Linked DNA regions of Homo sapiens. The protein of the gene in region 2 purifies or fractionates together with the protein of the main gene of each other region. This does not show direct contact. Each region holds a gene or a part of one and is shown on either strand. Other genes may lie near its edges. The genes, in order: RPH3A, PALS1, MILR1, ZNF451, AMOTL1, TWF1 and GAK.

What was found.
Region 1: the proteins of PALS1 (region 2) and RPH3A purify together in Homo sapiens (affinity purification with mass spectrometry; 2 studies listed by BioGRID and IntAct, with this or other methods). This does not show direct contact.
Region 3: the proteins of PALS1 (region 2) and MILR1 purify together in Homo sapiens (co-immunoprecipitation; one large-scale study listed by IntAct). This does not show direct contact.
Region 4: the proteins of PALS1 (region 2) and ZNF451 purify together in Homo sapiens (affinity purification with western blotting; one study listed by BioGRID). This does not show direct contact.
Region 5: the proteins of PALS1 (region 2) and AMOTL1 purify together in Homo sapiens (affinity purification with mass spectrometry; 3 studies listed by BioGRID and IntAct, with this or other methods). This does not show direct contact.
Region 6: the proteins of PALS1 (region 2) and TWF1 purify together in Homo sapiens (co-immunoprecipitation; one large-scale study listed by IntAct). This does not show direct contact.
Region 7: the proteins of PALS1 (region 2) and GAK purify together in Homo sapiens (affinity purification with mass spectrometry; 2 studies listed by BioGRID and IntAct, with this or other methods). This does not show direct contact.

The regions. Positions count from the first base shown.
Region 1 is NC_000012.12:112,875,248-112,878,747, forward strand, and holds part of RPH3A (rabphilin-3A), read left to right. Parts: intron 1-431; coding exon 432-494; intron 495-1,394; coding exon 1,395-1,619; intron 1,620-3,500. UniProt on the Homo sapiens protein: Plays an essential role in docking and fusion steps of regulated exocytosis.
Region 2 is NC_000014.9:67,317,935-67,321,434, reverse strand, and holds part of PALS1 (protein PALS1), read right to left. Parts: intron 1,206-3,500; coding exon 1,038-1,205; intron 379-1,037; coding exon 176-378; intron 1-175. UniProt on the Homo sapiens protein: Plays a role in tight junction biogenesis and in the establishment of cell polarity in epithelial cells.
Region 3 is NC_000017.11:64,462,615-64,466,114, reverse strand, and holds part of MILR1 (allergin-1 isoform Allergin-1L precursor), read right to left. Parts: intron 664-3,500; coding exon 574-663; intron 1-573. UniProt on the Homo sapiens protein: Immunoglobulin-like receptor which plays an inhibitory role in degranulation of mast cells. Negatively regulates IgE-mediated mast cell activation and suppresses the type I immediate hypersensitivity reaction.
Region 4 is NC_000006.12:57,152,688-57,156,187, reverse strand, and holds part of ZNF451 (E3 SUMO-protein ligase ZNF451), read right to left. Parts: intron 2,328-3,500; coding exon 2,141-2,327; intron 1-2,140. UniProt on the Homo sapiens protein: E3 SUMO-protein ligase; has a preference for SUMO2 and SUMO3 and facilitates UBE2I/UBC9-mediated sumoylation of target proteins. Plays a role in protein SUMO2 modification in response to stress caused by DNA damage and by proteasome inhibitors (in vitro).
Region 5 is NC_000011.10:94,869,356-94,872,855, forward strand, and holds part of AMOTL1 (angiomotin-like protein 1), read left to right. Parts: coding exon 1-118; intron 119-1,333; coding exon 1,334-1,440; 3' UTR 1,441-3,500. UniProt on the Homo sapiens protein: Inhibits the Wnt/beta-catenin signaling pathway, probably by recruiting CTNNB1 to recycling endosomes and hence preventing its translocation to the nucleus.
Region 6 is NC_000012.12:43,793,223-43,796,317, forward strand, and holds the end of TWF1 (twinfilin-1), read right to left. Parts: intron 2,929-3,095; exon of another isoform or gene 2,753-2,928; intron 2,599-2,752; exon of another isoform or gene 2,580-2,598; intron 2,534-2,579; coding exon 2,363-2,533; 3' UTR 501-2,362; downstream 1-500. UniProt on the Homo sapiens protein: Actin-binding protein involved in motile and morphological processes. Inhibits actin polymerization, likely by sequestering G-actin. By capping the barbed ends of filaments, it also regulates motility.
Region 7 is NC_000004.12:848,777-852,316, reverse strand, and holds the end of GAK (cyclin-G-associated kinase), read left to right. Parts: intron 1-342; coding exon 343-567; coding exon of another isoform or gene 568-770; exon of another isoform or gene 771-1,008; intron 1,009-1,232; coding exon 1,233-1,381; intron 1,382-2,248; coding exon 2,249-2,425; intron 2,426-2,542; coding exon 2,543-2,644; 3' UTR 2,645-3,040; downstream 3,041-3,540. UniProt on the Homo sapiens protein: Associates with cyclin G and CDK5. Seems to act as an auxilin homolog that is involved in the uncoating of clathrin-coated vesicles by Hsc70 in non-neuronal cells. Expression oscillates slightly during the cell cycle, peaking at G1.

The DNA.
Region 1 (3,500 bases), on a different chromosome or scaffold from region 2:
AGAGCATGCTGGGCTTTCTGCAAAGCTGCAGCCACAACTAAATCTTAACCTCTTCTAAGACCCTTACAACCAGTAATTCCCTGGGCCAAGAAGCTGGGCAGGGAGTGGGAGGAGGAGGCAGGGAGCATCTTACCCACCCAGTGCAGAAAGTGATGGCACCTCATTCGCCAGTGTTTCCCACCTCAAGGACCAACACCCCCATTTCACAGAGGAGCAAGTCAAGGCTCAGGAAGTTCCCACAGCACTAGGGCTTGGATCCAAGTCTTTCTAAATCCAAAAGCTCCTCTCCCAGTGGGACTGTTTCTGCAGCCTCGGGTACCTTTCTGCCTTCGGGCCTGTGTCCACACCTGTGAAATGAAAAGGAAAAGGTGAACCCCCAAATGATGCCACCCTCTCTGCTGCATCTCTGTTTGTCTCCTCTCCCTGCTCAGGGACCCCAGGAGGAAGCAGACCGGGTCCTGGGCCAGCAGGACGCTTTCCAGATCAGAAGCCAGGCAAGTATCTGCTTCCTCCCATGCCTGCCCAAGTGGCCACCTCTCCCCTACCTCCCTGAGAGAGAGCAGGCAGCTGCCAGAACGTGACTCAGCCTGCACCCTGAGACCTGTCTGATGAGATCTAAACAGCTCCCCCGAGTCTAAAACTTTAGATAGTCCGTACTAAGATTAGCTAGATAGAAATGCCAACACATATAGTTTAGAGCATAGACTACCTGGGTTCAAATCCCTGCCCCTTCACTTCCTGGCTGTGTGACTTTGGACAAGTTACTTAGCTTCCCTGAGCCTCAGTTTCCTAATTTATAAAATGGGAATAATACTAGGACCTACCTCACAGAATTGTTGGGAGGATTAAACAAACTAACACATAGAAAACCTTGGTGGGTGGCCTGGAATATAATAAGCCCACACTGAGCGACAGTGGTTGCTATTAATATATATGATCAATATGCATCACCATCATATGTACCAGTCACAGCTACAAGACACTTTTTGCTTTCTCAGGCATCAGGCACTGTTTTAAGTGCTACACCTGTATTTGTTCATTAAAAAATACTATTATTTGAGGAGCTTCAGATATTATAATTTCCATTTTACAGATAAAGAAACTGAGGCTCAGAGACATTAAGTAATTTGCCGCAGGTCACATGGCCAAGATTCAAACCCAGGCTGTCTGGGCTCCAGAGTCCACACCACTGATTTGTACCCCCACAAGGTCTGTTTTGCTTACATCTGAATCAGCTCGAGGGGCTTATTGTCAAACACAGATCCCAAGGTCCCACTGCATATCCACTGATTCCGGGTGAAGCCAGGAATCCGCATCTTTTGAAAATGTCCCTAGGTGCTGCTGTTATGAAACAGGGATGCAGCTGCATGTTTCCTGTCCTTATCTCCCTGCAGAGGTGGCTCCGAGCGACCCTGGGACCACTGCCCCACCCCGAGAGGAGAGAACAGGGGGAGTCGGGGGCTACCCAGCAGTTGGAGCCAGAGAGGACCGAATGAGCCACCCCTCCGGACCCTATTCCCAAGCATCTGCAGCTGCCCCCCAGCCTGCTGCAGCCCGCCAGCCACCACCCCCAGAGGAGGAGGAAGAGGAAGCCAACAGCTACGATTCGGATGAAGCAAGTAGGTGGTGCCTAAGGGAGAGGTATCTTGGAAAAATCACTTCAGGAGCCAAGCCCAGGAAAACAGGAACGGCTCAGGAACAGCCCTGTCTATCCCCAGACCCCTAATATACCAGACCTAATAAACATATTAACCAAGTGATAGAAGTACAGATTTGTGTTTCTAAATTCACAAAATATCAGCTTCCTAAAGAGTAAGTGCTACATATATTTTTTATTGTGGTAAAATACAAATAACATCAATGGTACCATGTAAATCATTTTAAAGATTGCAATTCGGTGGCATTGACTACATTCTTGATGTTCAGTCTACTAGCTCCTCAAGAGGTTAAACATAGAATTATTATATGACTCAGCAATTTCGCTCCTAGGTGTGAATTTTAACAATTTTTAAAACTCTTTAATGTATATCTTCTAAAAGTAATTTATTAATCATGATTTAAAATTTACTGGGCATTTTCTCTTGCATCCTTATTGAATGCCTACAATGTACCTATCCCACCCAGGCCCCAAGTCCCAGGGATACGCACACACGTATACACACACACACGTATACACACACACACACACACACACACACACACACACACACACCAGTGGCATTTCCCCCCGCTAACCCTGGTGTGCCTGGGGCAGACTTTGTGAGCTGGAGAGAGGTAGAATTGGCAAGTGTCTGCATCCAATATGTGTTGGTGGGTGGGGACATTACCAGTTGTTTCTGATCAAGTTGGAAAACTGGATCCACACAGAAGGAAAAGATCAAGGGCTGTGACCAGCAACACGGCCTTGACCTGCCATGTCATCTCTCCTCACTGTAAAATGAAAAGCACAGCACCACCTCCCCCACAGGCTAAGGGGCAGATAAACTGAGATACCTTCTGGGAAGGTGCTTCATAAAATGGAAATCATTATTACATAGTGCTAAACACCCACGAGGAATTGTTGTTATGCGTATGGACATCAGAGGTAATAAAAGTCCACACGTGTTGGGCACTCATTTTGTGCTGGGCACTATTCTGAGTGTATTCTGTGCATTTGCCTATTTAATCTTCCCTACGAACCTGGGCATAGTTGCTTTTATAACTCTCATTTTACAGATTGAGAGATGAGGCTCCAAGAGGTTGAGGGACTTGTCCAAGCTCATCCAGTCAGTTCAAGGAGGGGCTGGTGGTCAATCACACAGCTGTAGCAGATCAGAGGCCAGGACTGCATGGAAGATCAGCTGTCCCCCTTCGTGCCCTGTGCACTCCCATGGATCATGGGTCTGCGGTCTCAGGAGAAAGGAGAGGAGTCCACCCATCTTGTCAGCCACAGGCTGGTTCTGCTCTGAAAATGCCCTGTCTATGCACCCTTCTGCCTTCCCTCATCCTGGTCCTTCCCTGGAACACTGGCTACTGCTCCTTCCATCGGCCTTAAATGTCCCCAACCCACCAAGCATAGATGAGTCCTCCCAGCCTCATGTCTGTCCCTGTTATTAACTTATCCCGGCTGTTTATTACAAACCTGTCTCCATACTCTATACTCTTCACACACTCACTCATCTCTATATTTGACAATGGTTTATTGAGCATGTACAAAGTGCCTCAAACTGTTCTAGATGCTGGGGATATCATGGAAAAAAAAAGATAGACATGCCAGCTATTCTCCTGGAGCTAACACTCCAGTGAAGAGAGGCAGTTAACATACCAACGAATTCATTTCGAGTGGAGACAGAGCACCATAAAAGAAATAAAATACATTGAGTGACTATGATGGTAGCTACTTTAGAGAGTGATCAAGGAGGGCTTCTCTGAGGAGGTGACATTTAAGCTGAGATATGGATAACGAGAAGGTGCCAACCATGTAAGGATCTAGAGGGAGAGCATTCCAGGCAGAGGGAACA
Region 2 (3,500 bases):
GGAAACTGAAAGAGATTTAGCAACCTGTGTGATTTCAGATAGCAAATCAGTGGGAAAAACCGTATGAGAACTTAATTAGGTCGCGCTGTTCTTGGACCAAAATATAGCTTCCACTAGATTACTCTATATGACATTCCTTCTAAGTTCAAACCCTAAAACAAAGTTCTAGCTTTACCTGTGTACGAAGACTTAAAAGACATATTTTGCCAGAGTTGATCACTTGCCGTACAGAATCTATGCTAGTTCCATACAAATTCTTCTCAAATTCACCATGCTCAATGAACTTTCCAGCTGCTATGTCTGCCTCGAATGCTTGCCGCGAAACAAAGTGGTAATCTCTACCGGCTACTTCTTGGTCTCGCCTACTCCGGGTTGTATCTAGGCAAACAAAATCAGATAGAAATAACAGGCATGGCTTAGAGTGAGGACAGGGGATAATTCTGCTAGTCAGAAAGAATTTCTATTTTGTAACACAGATTATAAAATAATAAACTGAGAAAATGCTAAGTGCCTACATGTTTAACATTGTTTTTATTTTTTGTAGATTGAAAAATGAACAAAAATGAGTTTGTAGTATCTTAGTAATAGTTATATTTATCTCAATACATTTTATGCTTACACTTCAAGTTACTTCATCCTGCATTTAAAACACTACTACTCATCTTCTCCTAAAGTTTATCTCCATAAGATTAGGTACCATATAATCTTATAACTTCTGTTTCAGATTATGCCTAAGTTTCTATCTTCTGTATCACTTTAAAGCAGCAGGAACTGATTCTCTATGGAACAGGAAATTATAAGGGGCCCAAACTGAAATTTGTTTAGAAAATAATCAGTACATACTTGAAGGACAAATTTAAATTTCTTAATAATGACTATTTTTAATTTAAAAATTGTCAAAATCTTTGGTTAAAGTTCCTCTTTCACTGACAACAGTGTTTTAATGAAATGAATAAAAAATTTCCCTACATGATATAGTTAGGTTCTGAGCTGGTAAATTGAAAAGCACAGGAAAATGGGAATGCATTCAAACTTACGAGGAACTGCAGATGCAAAGCGGTCCTTTTCTTTGTTCATGAGCCTCTGACGCAATTCATTCTGGCCACAGTTCTGTGGACCAATCAAGATGATAGGTCTCTTCCTATTTGCTGGCTGATGATAAAGTGACATTTCCTCATAGGTTAAGATCTCCTCGTTGTCATAATCTTTGGGAAAAAAAAGTTAAGCTCTTCAAACAAAATTATGGCCATGTATTAAAGATATAAATACTCATAGATCTTCACCCAAAATTAGACAAAAGCACAATTTATTGTCATTACATCCTTGCTAGGGTATCATGAAAATGAATCAGACAACAATATAATACTCCTTCTATTAATTTTTATCTCATTTCATATTTGAAATAAAAAATTCATGCTTGAATGTCTAATACAATATAATTATACTGATTCTTACATTAAACAGCTAATTTGCAGTCAATACTTTGAATAAGGATGCGGTACCAGGGAATGAACTAGTAAGAGTAATATCCGTCATTTTTGAAGAATGCAGATATTAATATTCTACTTAAGAAGGTTGTTTTAAGAATCAGACATAATGTATACGCTGAATACAATGGCTAGCATAGACCGACATTTACATATAGTGGCTACAACCAGTGTTATCAGAGAAAGCTGGAATACTTTCCTATAGTTCAAGCTCGTCCAACCCGTGGCCCATGAGCTGCATGCAGCCCAGGACGGCTTTGAATGGGGCCCAATGCGAATTTGTAAACTTTCTTAAAACACTGTGAGATTGTTTTGCAATTTTTTTTTTTTTTTTTTTAGCTCATCAGCTATCTCTAGTGTTAAGTGTATTTTACGTGTGGCCCCAGACTATTCTTCTTCTAATGTGGCCCAGGGAAACCACAAGATTGGATACCCCTGCTGTAGTTGTATAACTTGAAAACAGGCCATATGCATGCTATCTCCACTTTCTGCATTTATGTTTACTCTACTCTGGAATGCTAACCCAGAGTCATGAATCAAAATGAGGTATAAATTATGACAGGTGGGGTAACATTCCTAAAGCCCATAATCCAGATGAAACCAGAGCTGTCAAGTGGTAAGAACAAAAGCAGATAACTAGTAGCCTGCCAAGTCCTCACTCATATTACTTCTCCTGACTGTGAAGGAGCATCAGATGTGAAGTCAGACTCCCTCAGCTCTATTTCCATGAGGTTAGGGGACCATCTTAGGCTTGTCAATGCTCAGCACAGAGCCTGGCACAGAGCAGGAGCTCAAACTACACTTGTTTAAATTCCAGCTCAACCAATCATGTATTAGTTGTTAAGAATTTCAGCAAATCACTTTAATATCTAAACTTTTTTTTTTTTTTTGAGACGGAGTCTCGCTCTGTCGCCCAGGCTGGAGTGCAGTGGCGCGATCTCGGCTCACTGCAAGCTCCGCCTCCCGGGTTCACGCCATTCTCCTGCCTCAGCCTCCCGAATAGCTGGGACTACAGGCACCCGCCATCACGCCTGGCTAATTTTTTGTATTTTTTAGTAGAGATGGAGTTTCACCATGTTAGCCAGGATGGTCTCCATCTCCTGACCTCGTGATCCGCCTGCCTCGGCCTCCCAAAGTGCTGGGATTACAGGCATGACCCACCGCGCCCGGCCTAATATCTAAACTTGAATCTATTACTCTGTAACCTCAAGGAGTTTGTGAGAACAACATCATATAGTTACTGCCCTGGAATACAGCAGTTATTATGAATTGTAGTTATTTATTTAAAAATATTCATGATGATGACATCATCATAAACAGCAAATGTAATTCCTTCTCCTCTCAAAATGATTTTCTCTGAAAAATCTGAGTTTATTCTAACACGTATAATCAAGACTGGTAGCATTTTAATTTATAGACTCAGTGTGTATATCCATAAGGTTCAGATTTGCCACGTTTTCTACAGTACAGTAGCTCTTAGAGCTGGACTAGTTAACTTCAGTCTGTTTCAAAAAATAAAAGAGATATTAATCACAAATATAGAGGATAAAATTTAAAACTCATTAAATCTTTTTAGTTACATAATCTGTCAATTAGCATTAAAGGATATTTATTTTAGAAAAAAATTTATTAAAGTTGATCAAACCTCATTTAGCTTTTATGGAATATTATAATGATCTATAATGTTTTATCTTTATTAGTTTAATGTGTGCTGCTCCCAAATATTTCAAATTCTTGACAGAAAAGCCTTATAAATTACATAAGAAGGAAAGCCTTTGCTTTATTATTTGGGTTGCTTCTAATGTGAACCAAACAGAAGTAGCAAACTCAAATGCCCATAAAAACAAACTAAGGAGGTAATAAAATCAGTAAATCAGGTTGGGTTAATAAAACACTGGGAGTGGTAGAGACTGTTAAACTAGACACCAGGTGCTTGATATAAGAGCAACAGTCATCACTCAGGTCCAGCAGACTGTTGTCACCTAGGAATACTAGCCCAACATTATCAGAGCT
Region 3 (3,500 bases), on a different chromosome or scaffold from region 2:
CTCTCTCCTACCGCCTTGGGAAGAAGGATGTGTTTGCTTCCCCTTCCACCATGATTGTAAGTCTCCCGAGGCCTCCCAAGCCCTGCGGAACTGTGGGTCAATTAAACCTCTTTCCTTTATAAACTACCCCATCTCAGGTATGTCCTTATAGTAGCATGAGAATGGACTAATACATCAGCCGAGGCGCTGGGTCTTGTTTACTGCAAAGCAATATGCAATGCCTGCTTTGAGAGGTGACCGTGAAAGACTGTGAAACACAGTGTGGATCATTCTGAACAGATGTGAAAAATCTCCAAGATACGTTGTTACATGAAAAAAAAACAAAATCATGGTGTAGAAAGTCATACCTACAATATGCTACAATCACTACCATTTGTTTATTATACACACAGAATATCTGTGGAAGGATTTAAAAAACTGGTTATTACCCCTAGAAAGTGGGACTGGGCATCAATAGACATTGAACTCTATCCCTTTTGCTCCACCCCCCACTCCCGTATGTCTGTACAACCTTAACAAAATAAAAAGACAAAAACCTGAAACCACCCAAAACACGCAACAAAGTTCTCTTACTTGCTTGTTTTTCAAGGATATTTGCATAGATTCCAACTTCCATGGCTGTGTCTCCACGGTCCCTGGGCACATTATTTCTCATAGCTTTTCCTACGTAAATAGGTAGGAATCATCAAATTAAACCAATTCAGCCACATTTTTCTCATCTCCTCGGCCAAGGAGCAGAATTCCCTCAAAGTTCTGAAACAGAGAGTGACTTGCTCCAATGGCCCAAACTGTTGTCTAACAAAGGAAAACTATAGACTCAACAGGGAGTCTAGACACCGCTCCTCCAAGCCAGGGGCTGTTCTGATTTATTTTCCTGGCCTTCAGAGGAACATGCTTTGCCTATCAGATTATGCCTGAACTAGCCAGACTTATTTTCTTTCCTTCGCTGAAGAGAATAGTCTGTGGAAGCTTTGTAATATCTTCAAGAGAGTGTAAATGGCCTATTGAATTCTTTTTTTTTAAGATGGAGTCTCGCTCTGTCGCCTGGGCTGGAGTGCAGTGGCACTATCGTGATCTCGGCTCACCGCAACCTCCGCATCCTGGTTTCAAGCGATTTTCCTGCCTCAGCCTCCCGAGTAGCTGGGATTACAGTTGTGCACCACCATGCCCAGCTAATTTTTGTATTTTTTTGAGACGGAGTCTTGCTCTGTTGCCCAGGCTGGAGTGCCATGGTGCAATCTCCGCTCACCGCAACCTCCGCATCCTGGTTTCAAGCGATTCTCCTGCCTCAGCCTCCTGAATAGCTGGGATTACAGGCATGTGCCACAATGCCTGGCTAATTTTTTGTATTTTTAGTAGAGGCGGGGCTTCACCATGTTAGCCAGGCTGGTCTCAAACTCCAGACTTCAGGTGATCAAAGTGCTGGGACTACAGGCATGAGCCACTGTGCCCGGCCAGCCTCACTGAATTCTATTGTAGCTCCAGCCAGTAATCAAAAATATTAATGCCACTTTTGCAAGAACCTGGACTTTTTATAAGAAGGAGAAACATGTTTTTAAGACATATGAGATGTGGGCCAGGGTGCAGTGGCTCACGCCTGTAATCCCAGTGCTTTGGGAAGCTGAGGTGGGAGGATCACTTGAAGCCAGGAATTCAAGACCACCCTGGGGAACATAGTGAGACCTTGTCTCTAAAAAGAATTTTGTAATTAAAAAAAAAACAAAAAACTGTAATCCCAGCACTTTGGGAGGCTGAGGCAGGAGGATGGTTTGAGTCCAGGAGTTCAAGACTAGCCTGGGAAACATGGTGAAACCTACAAAAAAAAAAAAAATTAGCCAGGCATGGTGGTGCGCGCCTGTGGTCCCAACTACTCAGGTAGCTGAGGCAGGAGGAGGCCTGGGAGGTCAAGGCTGCAGTGAGCCATGATTGCACCACCGCACTCCAGCCTTGGGTGATGGAAGTGAGATCCTGTCTCAAAAAAAAAAAAAAAAAAAAAAATGTCAGGCGCGGTGGCTCACCAGCCCCAGCACTTTGGGAGGCCGCGGTGGGCGGATCACGAGGTCAGAAGTTCAAGACCAGCCTGGCCAACATAGTGAAACCCCATCTCTACTAAAAATACAAAAATTAGCCTAGCGTGGTGGTGGGCGCCTGTAATCCCAGCTACTCAGGATGCTGAGGCAGGAGAAACGCTTGAACCTGGGAGGCAGAGGTTGCAGTGAGCGGAGATTGTGCCACTGCACTCCAGCCTGGGCAACAGAGCGAGACTCTGCCTCAAAAAAAAAAAAAAAAAAAAAAAATTAGCCAGGAGTTGTGGTGCATACCTGTATTCCCAGCTACTAGGGAGGCTAAGGTGGGAGGTTACAGTGAGCTATGGTGGCACCACTGCACTCCAGCCTGGGCAACACAGTGAAGCCCCATCTCTAAAAAAAAGAAATGAAATAAAATAAAATCTTAAAGATGCATCAGATGTATAACTTGTGACCTCTGTGTTCAAGTTTTATGTCAACTGAGTCCCTGACTTCTCTGAGTTGTGACTCTCTGGAGATGGTTCTCAATTGGTTCTCTTGCCAGTTCTGACAATATCTCCATGGCCCATTCCACAACTCAGAACACTGAGGCTCAGAAGCAACAGCCTGAGGGGCTTGTCCAACAGCCCTCAGCTTGCTGATGGGGGCCAGTGCTGAGACCCAAACTGTCTTTTGTGTAAATCTTCATATCCTTCTGCACTCGTGTACCAAATGAAAAAACCACTTTGAAGGCTTAACCAGTGGTGGCCATAAGACGTGAGGAATGAAAAGCAGTAACTGGGCTGAGTGCAGTGGCTCATGCCTGTAATCCCAGCACTTTGGGAGGCTGAGGTGGGAGGATCGCCTGAGTCCAGGAGTTCAAGACCAGCCTAGGCAACACAGTGAGACCCCGTCTCTAAAAAACATTTTTTTAAAAAAGCTGTAACTGAGGCTTCTAATAACATTGACAAGTTTTCTGCTGGATGTAGCACTTAAGGTGGGGAAGAGAGAAATGATGCTTTTTTGTTTCTGTTTTTGTTTTTTTGAGTCTGGTGTGTTTAATAAAGTTTTTTAAAAAATCTTATAGTAGAATAGATTATACTTCTACATTGAAAATCTAGAAAGCATAGAAATGTAGAAATAAAAAATATGTATATATTAGGTTGGTGCAAAAGTAACTGTGGGCCGGGCGTAATGGCTCACATCTGTAATCCCAGCACTTTGGGAGGCTGAGGCGAGCAGATCACCTGAGGTCAGGAGTTCAAGACCAACCTGACCAACATGGTGAAACCCTGTCTTTACTAAAAATACATGGTGGTGGGTGCCTGTAATCCCAGCTACTCAGGAGGCTGAGGCAGGAGAATCGCTTGAACCAGGGAGACAGAGGCTGCTGTGAGCCGAGATTGCACCACTGCACTCCAGCCTGGGCAACAGAGCGAGACTCCATTTCAAAAAAAAAAAAAAAGTAATTGTGGGTTTTGCCATAAAAGTATG
Region 4 (3,500 bases), on a different chromosome or scaffold from region 2:
ACATTAAAAATGTAGTGGCTAGGAATCACATTTTCTTTTTATGGTAGTAATAATAAAAAATAGCTATTATTTGTTAAATAGCTAAAGTGCTTTATATACTGTGCTAGACACTTTACATACATCACTAACTATTACAACCATATAAATACAAAAAAATGAGGCTCCAAAAAAGTTAAGTAACATGCCTGAAATCGCGCTGCTAGGAAACAGCAAAGTTAGCATTTGAACCAAAGCCCATATCCTTCTTCATGCAGTGCACAATCTCTGTATGTCACAAAAACTAAGAATAAAGTACACATGTGCCTCCAGAGAGTAGTTAGTTCAAATGAGTACTGAGTATGAGTGATTAAAAAAAAAAAAAAAAAAAAAGAATACCTAGAACATAAGAGTCATTTGGAAGGGCATAATCAGCAGATATTAATAACCTGTATCTTACCTCCAACTGTAATATACCCATGCAAGTCTACTCGTATTCACCTCTCATTCCAAACAGAATATGGTTTTGCCTCTGCAAAACCATAACAGGTTTCACATTTGGAGTTATAAAAGAAATGTTCCCAAAAGCAGAAGCATAAGAGAAGGAAAGGGAGGTTGGCCTTGTGCGGCAAAGGTAAAACTTTATCTTATAGGATATTAAGTAGATGTTGAGAACTGGGAAAGCGATGGCAAAAGAGTAGAAGAGGTGTTTTGCTTTTTGTTTGAGACGAAGTTTTTGGTCTTATTGCCCAGGCTGGAGCGCAATGGTGCAATCTCAGCTCACTGCAACCTCCGCCTCCTGGGTTCAAGCGATTCTCCTGCCTCAGCCTCCCGAGTAGCTGGGATTACAGGCAACCGCCACCATGCCCAGCTAATTTTTGTATATTTAGTAGAGATGGGTTTTCACCATGTTGACCAGGCTGGTCTTGAACTTCTGACCTCAGGTGATCCACCCACCTCAGCCTCCCAAAGTGCTGGGATTACAGGTGTGAGCCACTGCACCCAGCCTGTTTTTTTTGTTTTTTTGTTTTTTGTTTTAAGAAAAAAGAAAGCCACAGATAGAAAAACAAGTGAAAACAAAAATTACAGAATAGGAAGATAATACTCAGAACTAAGGCATGACATAAAGACACAAGAGTTCATTTTCTTTTATAATCTTCCATCATTACTCCACTTTAAAGAGTATAAAGAGCACAGATTACTGATTCCTAACTTTGCAGAAGTGAATTGATCCACTGTAATCAGTGATTACAGCAAAATTCTCCAGAATGAGTTTTCAATCAAAATGTGCTTCCAAATATATTGAAAGAAAAAAAAAATCTAGGAGGCAAGCAGACTTGAAAGCTTTAAAGGCACACAATAAAAATGCCAAAAAGCCACTATTTTTCATTAAGGTAATTCATTAATATCTTCAAACCTTATTCATGAATTTAAATTATTAGGATATTTAAACATTAATTATTCTATCCATATTTCTTTACTTCAGAGATTATGAAAAAGGGGGTTATAACTCAGTGGTAGAGCATTTGACTGCAGAAATTATGAAAAACGAAAAACAAAACTTCTGAATCCTTAGAATTACATCTTTTCTTATATACTAGGAAGTGAAATTGGGTATCAGCACTCCTTTCATTGAACAATCTCACAAAGGTACAGAAGAAAGTGCAAGTCCCAGCAATAAGATAGGATGTACCCACTTCTCTAAGGACCTAAAAGCCTATCAGCGTTTTATTTTGTCACTGTCAACCTCTTAAATGATCACCTTTGTTATTGCTTTCTGGTTTTCACCTCTAAGCGCACTGCTTTCTAAAAAACTGAAGGTCAACTTGGAATTTCAGAAACAAAGTGAAGATCTGAATTCTGAGCTTTTAAAATTGTAGTAACATACTGTAACACATGAATATATGTTTTATATACATCAATATAGATTTTATCTACTAGATCAAAAAAAGCTCCAGAAAATTATTATGAATTCATCCTCCTTCTAAAACACTAAAGAATGAAAGTGAGATTTTTTTAAAAAAGATAAGTAAGATAGAAGTAAGAGAACATGATGGTTTAGCAAGCAGGCAACAGTTCACTAGCGGACAGCAGTTTATTGGTTTCTCTCAGCAGTGAAGTCTCCTCCTCTTGGGTGGTTTGCACTGTGACTGCAGCTGCGTACCTTTGGTGGTATCAGATATGCTATTTAACAAGGCACACATCATATCTCCCTCTAAGTGGTGAGGGTTTAGTATATGAGCTGGCCTCTGAGTCTTCTTAAATTGATTCTCTAGCTCCAGAAAACCTTGATCTCCTGAGAGGATGGTGAAAGGAATTTGCTTGGGTAGTTGTTCATCTAGACGGCCAGCCTAAGTTAGAACAAATGGCACAGGTTGATAAAAAATCAGCATGAGTTTCAAAACAAGTTACATCTATTTCAGAATGAACACATGCCTAGGAAGGTATATTAAGCTTGTTCCCTAGTCCCTACCAAAGTATGACATAAAGATCTCCTTCAGCTGGGTGCAGTGGCTCACGCCTGTAATCCCAACACTTTGGGAGGCTAAAGCAGGTGGATCGCTTGAGGTCAGGAGTTCGAGACCAGCCCGGCCAACATGGTGAAACGCGGTCTCTATTAAAAAATGCAAAAATTAGCTGGGTGTGGTGGCATGCGCTTGTAATCCCAACTACTCGGGATTCTCCAGGCTGAGGCTGGAGAATCACTTGAACTCGGGAGGCAGAAGTTGCAGCCAAGATCGCGCCACTGCACTCCAGCCTGGGCGACAGAGTGACACTCCGTCTCAAAAAGGAAAAAAAAAAAAAGAGAGAAAGAAAGAACTCGTTCATAAATGAAATACCCCACATTTAATCAAATATAAGATGCCATTAAATTATATAAGCTATTTAATGTGCCATGAAAAGAAAAAGCCAAAATGGAAGTCCAACAGACCTCACATAAGGTTGAAATGCCAAAGGGCTATACGCTCAATATAAGGGTAAATAAGAAATAAATCTGCCATAGAGAAAAGGTAAGCAAGGCAATTTGCATGATTCAATCTTGGCATTAGATAGACTGAAAAAGAAATCTTTTGTTGTTTAAACCATAAGCTGCAGTCAACAAGTTTGCAGAGTAAATTCACATTATCAGTGTGACATGTAAGTCCCCAAGCAGAAAATTTAAAGTGGGTCTCAGTTTGGCAGTTTCTCTAGGTACCCAGCAGAGACAGAAGCAAATGCAAATTCTGTCTAGGCCAACAGTGATTGTTAAGGTACCTCTTAATTTTAGAGATATTAAAATATGAAAGTGTCTTAATATATATCAAATACAGTATCATCAGCAGGGCGCAGTGGCTCACACCTGTAATCCCAGCACTTTGGGAGGCCTAGGCGGGCAGATCACTTGAGGCCAGGAGTTTGAGACCAGCCTGGCTAACATGGAGAAACCCCGTCTCTACTAAAAATACAAGTATTAGCTGGGCATGGTGGTATGCTCCTGTAGTCCCAGCTACTTGGGAGGCTGAGGCACAAGAACCATTTCAGCC
Region 5 (3,500 bases), on a different chromosome or scaffold from region 2:
GCCGAGCTCTTCTGGCCCAGCATGGCCTCCCTTCCCAGCCGCGGCCGGCTGAGCACGACCCCTGCTCACAGCCCCGTCCTGAAACACCCAGCGGCCAAAGGGACCGCAGAGAAACTGGGTATGTGGGCTACCCCACCTTGATGCCCCTGAAAACTGTGGAACTGTCTGGCCTAAGAGAATCTTTTGTTGAGCTAGAGAGGAAGCAGGGGCACCCATCAGCTCTTACTCTATGGGGATGCTATTCTAATGCACTTAGGATATGTGTGCCCTTTCTTATTACGGGAATAAATATGCATATAGACACATCTAGTTTATTACTATTTGAAATGAGTGCACGGCTTGAGACTACCCTGGCAATGCATACTTTTTAACTAACCTTTCCCCGGATGGAGTGACAACAGACCCTCTAAGGGGCTGAATGCCCTCTGGTATGTTTGGGAGCCAGAATTAGGCACCAGGTACATCAAAGGCACAAGTTCACTGTTGCCTTCAGGGCTCTAACTTACCAGGGATTCTGGCCTCAGTGGAGGACATTGTGATGGAAGGAGAAGGTAGATTGACCTGCAGAGTCGGTTAACGTGTGGCACAGCACTTGGGCCAGGACTAACGAGCTGTTTAAAATATTTACGGGAAGACAACTTGGGAGAGGTGATCTTTGCAGTGAGTCCCTAAGTGTCCTGGGTAAGAATAGACCTGGCCTCTTAAGGCACTCCTCTTAAGCAAAGGAGTACCATGGCCATGGTCAGTGGGATCCCACAAATGTTCTTAAATGGGTAAGGCTTTAAGTAGCCAGAGAGTACCCAGCCTACCATTGGCTTCTCCACATCCTAAAACCTGAGACTAATCATGGTCATGGGGACCTCCCTTTTCAGGAATTCTTTTGAGGAGGTGCAGGCTCTGTGGGCCCTAAGTTAACTGTTTCCTCCAAGGGGGTTGTTTATTTCATTTTTCAAAGTAGACAAGTAAATACAATGTTGTCACTTTTTAAAGATGTGATTCTTTTCCAAGTAAGCCAGAGAACCTGTCAAAAGTGCCTAGCTCAGAATATGCACCTGATAGTTTTGAGTAGAGGGTGTGAGGGGCTCCTGTACAGAGTCCCACTGTCATCCTCACCTTCTGAATCCTCTCCCTTCACCATCCTGGTTTGTATTTGTGTCTGAATCCTGGCCCAGTCATTCTGCATGTTCCCACTGTGGGCTGGATCATCTCACATGCCCTGTGGTGAGAATCCTGGGTGTGCAGTGGTATCGGACGTGGGTCCATTTTAGAGAACCTGGAAAGCCTATGCCCCTCCTGAGGAATGGGCAGCTGATGTTTCCCCTCTATTTGGCAGAGAACTCTCCTGGCCATGGGAAGTCGCCTGACCACAGAGGCCGGGTCAGCAGCTTGCTGCACAAGCCCGAGTTCCCTGATGGAGAGATGATGGAAGTCCTCATCTAACTGCCATCCCTGTGGAATTTCAGTACAGAACACTGACAAACAAGGAAAGCGGCAGAGAAAGAAGAAAGACCTAGAAGGTTGTAGATGGGAAATCAGGAATGATTTGAACTGATAAAGATTTCAGACTCATAAGAACACATTTTATAAATGTTAAACACAAAAACTACATGACTGAAGATAGAAGAGAATGCGATGGATTTTATTACACATGGTGGAAGAGAGAAGAGGCGTGTAGGTTTGCAAACAAAGTTAAGAAATAGGAAACTGAATTTTTCATTGTACAGAAAATGTATCTCTTGGGGAGGGCCTGTGTACCCCCATTCTCTGATTATAAACAGATAAACCCAAATGTGGATCATCCTTGGAATACCCCCATTCTCCTTGCCTCTTAGCATGTTTGATTTAAGAAAAGCCTCCAGGAAATCTTGAGAGCCTGTCTTGGCATAATGCAGTGTCACCTGTGCCAACCATGGGGTGTCCCGTGAGTGTGAGTGTGGCAGTGAGAAGAAGCATCGAGGGCGAGGGGAATATGAAAGTTGGTCTTCACCTAATTACCTGTTTGGTTTGGATTTTCAAGAGATGATTGGGCTTCTTAGCTTTTCTGAATTCTGCAGTATTTTCTAAACAGGATAGATTATGATCTCGGTCCCCATCCATCCTAACTTCTGAGTTCATCTCTGTCTCTGCTTTACAGTCTTTAATTTTTTGTTGTTCCTTCATTTTTTTCTTTTTAATAAGACATAGCAGAATTCCTTAGGTATGGGATTTATGAGACCAGTACCTGAACTGTCATCATTCCTACTGTGTTTGATAGTGACCAGTAGGACAAAGCCACGTGCCGACTTCCTGGCTGCTTCACCTTTGCATAGCTGGGTTGCAGCTGCGAACCTCATTCTGACTGTGAACTAAGCAAGCTTTGAGGAGGCAGGAGATTCCGTGGGTCCCTGTGACATATTGCATTAAGATCGTGGCACTTGCTTTTTTGTCTTTCACATCGGCTGTCTTGCAAGGAGCTTGACATTTCCAAATTCCATTGCTCTGTTTGGGGAAGACTTAGGACAGCACTCCAGGAAACAGATGACAATTTACAGACAGTTGTCTCAGTGGTTTCCAGAATCTCACCAGCCTCCCGTATAGCTTCTTGTATTGAGGCTCATGAGCGTATTCACACTCTTTCCTCCCCCGCGCACGCCTCTGCTTGCTCTCGATCAGCATCCAGACCTCCGTGGCACCAGGTTGCCTCTGTTGTGAACTTCTTTTGTAACCTACCAGGCCAGTTGTATATACAGTGTTGTCAGGTTTTTCCGGGTTTCAGTTTTGAGGCAGTTTATTCAAAGTGAGACAGAAGTGCCACGGAAAAGAGGCAGGAGTGTGTTAGGTGGTGGGTCCATTAGACCTCTGCTGTGACATTGCATATTCAGCTCTGCAGACACTGGCTTCCTTTACAAATCTAAGAGATGCTGGATTAGAAAAGAGGAGAAGCTCATCGGGCCATCAGAGAGATGCTCCTACAGGGTCCTGATGTTTTTGTACCTCCAGGTCAGCTGGATCGCTGTTTTCCCAGTTCCCTTTGCTCATGCTTACTTAGAGGAAGAAAGAAAGGGGGGTACCTCTTCCAAGTACCTTCTAAATGAAACACTCAAGAGAGTGCTACTCAGGAAACTTTGCTTGGATCCTAAAATGGACTGGTCTTGGGTGTGTAACCCCGGTGAAGTTATAGCCTCCCCAAATTGAGGTGACAGAAGGAAGACAAGAGGTGTAAGCTGGAGAGGGAAGGGAAGAAATCAGTGGCTTTGGCCAGCCTCTGTGCCACCCAGTACGACAGAGGAGTGGGAACTGGCCCTCTGGGGCTCTGCTTGGCCATAGGCACTGCACATTGTGCCACCTGCTCATCACCTCCTCTAGTCTCACACTGAGCATCGGAGTACCTGTTGTGCAGACAGGAAAACTGAGGAGCTCTGAGAGGCTGAGCATGGAGCTCACCCCATGCCATAGGGTGTGGGAAGAGGGCACAGGAGGCCTCATCCATGGGGGAAAGGGTTGAGGATGGACATGGGTGG
Region 6 (3,095 bases), on a different chromosome or scaffold from region 2:
GCCTCGGCCTCCCAAAGTGCTGGGATTACAGGCGTGAGCCACCGTGCCCGGCCCAACGATGAGCCTTTCTAAAGCTATTTCAGCATCTTTTGTAAAACTGCTACCAAAGACATCCATCTTGTCACATCTCTAATAAAAAGGATTTGAAACCAAATCGCACACAGGAGTGCATTCAACATTTTTCACATGAATGAATACAGTGGCAAGTCTGAGTTTAGTGTCAAGTAAATCAGTACTGGGGTGCTTCTGTTACAGAAAATGAATAACTCATGGCATTTTTATTATTGCTACAACAGTGGCAAATTTTTAATCTAAGCACTCTATAGTCACAATTATTCTTGCCTAGGTTTAAAGCTACTTAAAATCCTTTTTGGACTTAGGCAGACTAATTAACAAATAAATGAATGGGATTCCTAACCTAACACCAGGTACTGAATTATGAAACATTACACAAACAATTAAAAAAACTATAGTAGAAAAACCAACAGAACATACACAACTTAAAGAGAAAAAATTTTTATTGTGATATAAAATGCACTTATAAAATGTCCACCAGAAGGCATGTAATTCTTCACTGCTATATAAATTTACTGGGAATATGTTATTCACCATCTAGGTATGATACTGCCAACTAAAACATACTGTAAACGATGAGTTATACTCTATAACAAATGCATCACTGATTTTCAGCAATCATTGGTTTAATAATAATTAGTTTAAGACTATAATCACATCTATATTCTGGAATGTCCATTTACTTTAATGTAGTGTAGTGGAATTTAGAGTATAATTGCACATAGATGGTACAGAAAAACATTCACTTCTAAATTATTTTATACCTTCATGACAGGTAGTCTTCCTGACTGAAAATAACAGCTTCAGCTATGGTCTGCTCCAGGATTCTTAATGCAATAATTTGGGTGTATGTGTGTCTGTCTACGTGTACACCCATGGAACAACTTATATCTTTAGTAAACAAGTGCAACATTATTGTCAGTTATTTTGCATGTTTAAATATTATAGTCTGATTATTTGTAAACAAACAAAACCCCAAATACTCTAAATTCTATTTTAAAAATCTGTCAACCCACAATTATTCTAATATGCTTTACTTACTCGAACACAAATTTCTGAAAGGTGCATATATTACCTTAGATAATAAGGTTTAGAAATGAGTGCTTCACACTATGAAATGTGCATTTCCGATAAGTGATTTATGCAGCATAAAGTTTAGATCAAGAAATTACAAATCCTGGATCCCCACAGTTCATTTAGAAAATGCCTCAAAGTTATGGCTCTTGCAGCAGGTTTAACAGATTAAACATTAAGTGTTCTAGCTCCCTCTATTTCAAGTATCAAAGAAATATGAGGCTCAAAATCTCTCTAGGTTGTAACTGATAATGCAAAGCATTAGAAAACAGTTAAATGTGTTTTGAAATACAGTATTAACTGAGATTATTAAGGTGTTTATCTACGTTAGCCTGTTAAGTACCAGGACTTTAAAGTAATTTTAAATCTGAGTATTTGCTCGGAAGTGATAAAGAACACAATTTGCCCATAAATGTATGGTTTTGGAGAAAAAAGTCAATCCTGATTTTTAAAACTCAACATTTTTTGTTTCCTTTTGAATGATATTAATTTAAATTTCAATCTGAACATAAATGTTTGGCCTCACAGAGCATTAGAAAGATAATTTACTAAGGCTGTTTAAAGTCTTTCAATGTCATCAGAAATCCTGCAGTATAGAAAATATCTGGTACCCTTAAAGTTTCAGAGTGAGCTGATCTGCAATTTTAATGCTATTAAAAAAAAGTCAAATATAAAAGACTGCTGCAATATAAAGCACTATTTCTAAAAGTTGCAGACATGATCCTACAGTCTGACAGAGCTAGCACAGCTACTCGGAGTAAGCAACTTGCGGCCTTTTCCAAGGCACACTAAGTTTCCAGCTTAGAAAATACTCTAGCCTGGTCCTTAACATATTCATTAAGTAATATGAATATTTTAAGGTCTTTCTGTCCCACAAGAAAGTAGTAAGTTTACCCTTTGAGACATCAGACTTTCTAGAACTGGCCCAACTGTATAAAATTTTAAGAAGTATTTGAAGTGTGGAATCAACGCTATGAAAACAGTGTGACAAAATTAAACATTATGTTGAACCCTTTTCTAGCTTTAACTCAAAAATAGAAATCATGAGTCTTCTATAACATTAATTTTAAAAACACACAGAAGTGAAAAGTGCTATTTTCCAAAAAGTACAATTTTTTTCCCTACTTTATATCAACATGGAATGATTTCAGTTCTCCTGTACTAAAAGCTGGACTTTTAAAAAACTAGTATTACAATGTTTAATGTGATGACTTTAATCAGTAGTAGCTTCAGTTTCCGCTGGGCCCCTAATTAGTCTTCGAATTCCTCTTTTTCCTGCAGGACCTTTTGGTTTTGCAAAACTTTGCTTGTGTGCATGCTGCTTGGGATGTACTTCTTCATAAAGGAAGTCTGCAGTCAACTCATCCCCATTGTCTATCTCGATCTGTAAAAGATAAAATTAGAAGCACAACATTCAAAACCTAATACAAGCAACAAGCTGGTTTTCAGGTATATGAATGCTCACAAATAATACCCTTTCCAGTAAGGCAGAATCAAGGACCATATGTAAACAGTTTCACTTTCTTCTTTTGGGGGAAGGGGCTAAATGAGTTACTTGAATATATAATCAGCTACATTCACTTCCTTCTTGGTTCTTTCTTAGTGCTCCAGTTTAAATAATGTTTAAAAGTAGAAGCCACCACTACATTCTCAAGTTGCTATGATACACTATTTATTCAAGGAACATTTACTCATGACCCTTTCATCACTTGGGTCACTTGAAAGCCCTCTACAAGAGAGGTAAACAAACCATGGCCCGAAGGCCAAATCTTGCCCAAGGTAAGATTGTTTTACATTTTTTAAGGGTTGTTAAACAACAATAAGAATATATGACAGAGATTATATGTGGCTTGGCAAAGCCTTTACTTACTATTTGGTCCTCTGTAGAAAGTCAGCTGATCCCTGCTATAGAAGGTGCTACCCATGATAAAGTGATTGATTCTTAG
Region 7 (3,540 bases), on a different chromosome or scaffold from region 2:
TTGGCTCCTGGGGGTGACGTGGGGACACTGCCCCAACCCCCGTGGACAAGCCCTGGGTCTGCCTTGGCTCCTGGGGGTGGGGTGCTGCCTCCACAGCTGCCCTGTCCTGGTGTCTGCCCTCCATCCAGAGTGTTCCCGTCGCCCCAGCACCTGGCCTGTGCTCCAGCCCCTGGAGACCTTCACACGTGTGGGTGGAGCCGGCACCTCTGGACGGCCTCGAGTGATCGGTGTTCTATTTTGCAAGCGCATGTTTTCCAATATACGTGGTGCTCTGCGTTATAGAAACAGTAGTTGCCCCTCATGGACAACCAGATGCCGAGTTTCCGATCTCCATCTCCACAGGCTCACCAGCTGGATTCCCTCCTGGGGGCTTCATTCCCAAAACGGCCACCACGCCCAAAGGCAGCAGCTCCTGGCAGACAAGTCGGCCGCCAGCCCAGGGCGCCTCATGGCCCCCTCAGGCCAAGCCGCCCCCCAAAGCCTGCACACAGCCAAGGCCTAACTATGCCTCGAACTTCAGTGTGATCGGGGCGCGGGAGGAGCGGGGGGTCCGCGCACCCAGCTTTGGTGAGTCCCCCACTCTCTGTTGCTGTGGAGTTTGCAGAGACCTCCCTGAATTGGCTAAAGGTAGAACCTATGTTGTTTTCTTCATCTCAGAGCCCAGTCCTGGGACAGGCACGGCCAAGCCACTCAGAGAACGACGCGGTTTCCGATGTGTGTTCACTGGTCTCTCTCTGGGTCAGGCCTCTGGGTCCCTCTTGTTCCAGTGACACCTTCTTGACCTGTTTTTAACAAATGGCCTTTGCAACCCTGTCTTGTCTTCCCTCTTCTTTACTCTGGAGGCATCAGGATGGTAGCCCTGTTCCCGGGGGCAGCAGGTGGAATTGGGCCTGTGTGTCTCTGCAGAAAGTTTCTGTTCTTAACTGGGCTTTGTGGCTCACGCCTATAATCCCAGCACTTTGGGAGGCTGAGGCGGACAGATCGCTGGAGCCCAGGAGTTCAAGACCAGCTTGGGCAACAGTGATACCTCCTCTCTACAAAAAATGTAAAAATTAGCCAGGCATGGTGGCGCATGCCTGTGGTCCCAGCTACTTGGGAGGCTGAGGCAAGAGGATCGCTTGAGGCCGGGAGGCAAAGGCTGCAGAGAGCTGAGATCACGCCATTGCACTCTGGCCTGGGTGACAGAGTGGAGACCCTGTCTCAAACAAAAAAAAGTTTCTGTTCTTTTCTAGCTCAAAAGCCAAAAGTCTCTGAGAACGACTTTGAAGATCTGTTGTCCAATCAAGGCTTCTCCTCCAGGTCTGACAAGAAAGGGCCAAAGACCATTGCAGAGATGAGGAAGCAGGACCTGGCTAAAGACACGGACCCACTCAAGCTGAAGGTGGGTGGGTGGGCAGCTCTTCCTGGGAGCCCAGAGGCCTCAACCCATGGCCCCTGGAGCATCTGCTGTGCCTTATGGAGCCGGCGTCTCCAGACAGCAACCTTTCACCCCTGGAGCATCTGCTGTACCACATGGAGCCGGCGTCTCCAGACAGGGACCTGTCACTGCCGATGGGCCTGGCAGCCCTCAAGGACAGGGTGGCCTGAGGCCAGGGGGGCAGGGCAGAGTCAGGCCCCAGGCTGTGCTGCTCCCCACGTGCCCAGATGGCTCAGCGCTGGTGGGGGTGGGGTGGGCGGGCGTTACAGGAGTGAGTGCCCCGGGGTGTTTGCAGAGACTGTTGAGGGCAGGCGTCTCTTGGGGGCTGCTCTGGGTACTGAGCCTCCCAACCCAGGACGCTCACTGGGGGGTGAGGATGCAGCGGTCAGGCTGTCACTGTGCCGGCCCTGAGACACGCCCTGCTCTGTGGCTTGGCCGATGCCCAGCTCTGCAGGCCACATGCGCCTGTGACCTTGGGGTCCTTTCACAGGCACCAGGGACCATCCCCTTCTCCCTCGGAGTCTGGGGCCTGGGATGGGCCAAGGGGTTGCACCACCAGAACCAGGGTTTGTGTCCTCGGTGAACATCTGGCTGAGACGAGGGTCCCTCTGGCCCCAGGCCCTGAAACATGAAGACCACCTGGCCCTGTGTCGTCCGGAGTGGGCTCTATATAGTTGAGGGCAGGGCGTGCAGTGGGACAGTGTCTGTGAGCCGGGCTGAGCCCACCCCACGTGACCAGGCACTTCCTCAGCGTCGTGCCTCAGTTTCCGCGGTGCAGAGGAGGAGGGCAGGCAGGTGCCCAGGGCTCGGCAAGCTCCGTGTCTCCCGCAGCTCCTGGACTGGATTGAGGGCAAGGAGCGGAACATCCGGGCCCTGCTGTCCACGCTGCACACAGTGCTGTGGGACGGGGAGAGCCGCTGGACGCCCGTGGGCATGGCCGACCTGGTGGCTCCGGAGCAAGTGAAGAAGCACTATCGCCGCGCGGTGCTGGCTGTGCACCCCGACAAGGTGAGCAGAGCTGCCAGGCGGCCGCTTGAGGCCTTCAGGGGCGGGGCGGGGGGGGGGTCCTGCCCCGCCCGCCCCCGCATGCTTATAAGAGGCGCTTACACCGCCTGTCACCCATAGGCTGCGGGGCAGCCGTACGAGCAGCACGCCAAGATGATCTTCATGGAGCTGAATGACGCCTGGTCGGAGTTTGAGAACCAGGGCTCCCGGCCCCTCTTCTGAGGCCGCAGTGGTGGTGGCTGCGCACACAGCTCCACAGGTTGGGAGCCGTCGTGGGACCTGGGTCCCCACCGTGAGGACCCCGTGGGCGACAGCAGGTGTGGCCAGGGTGGGGCTCCGAGCCCCGGGTCACCGCCCGCCCAGCGTTCCAGGCACATGAAGAGAAAGCATTCCAAAGCCTCTGATTGTTGTTTCCTTTTTCTCCTCCCGAAGGAACAGCTGATTCATGCTCCTCCCGCAATTGTCACGTCTGTGATTTATTTGGTGTTTCGGGCGTGGCCTCTGGAGCCCCGGCACGTGGTGGGCCACGCTGCTGGCGCTCATGGGCCCTGGTGTTTGCACCGCACTTTGTAATCAGTCCCGTGGTTGTCTGTACAGAATTAAACTATTTTCCGATGACTGCTGTGTCTCCAGTGTGGATCCACTCGCCCAGGTGCCGTTCACCAGCTGGGGCACAAGGCTGTGCTTCCTCAGCAACCTTGCCGTGGTTGGATTGTTGCAGGGGCCGAGTGGAGAGGAGAAGCGGGTCCCGGGGCTGCAGCGGCTCTGGGCAGCTCTTCAGGGGGCCATAGAGCCCAGCCAGGGCAAGGCCAAGGGCGGGGGCCCCTGCAGTCCCCAGACCCCCTTCCTCCCCTCGGCCCCGGGACTCCTCTCTCCTCTCCACTTGGCCCCTGCCCCTGGGCCCTGGACCTAGGAGCAAGGGTGGGCTCCACACTGCCCCTGTGCCATCCCCGCAGGGCCAAGGTGGCCTCCGGGCTGTCGGGCTGGTGGAGGACCAGGGGCCCCTGGAAGGAGAAGGTGACCATGGTGAGCCCCCACCCCACAGCAGACTCGAGGAGGCCCTGAATCATAGCCCTGAACTCACCGCCAGGCTCTTCCTGTTTTCAGAGAATAATGAC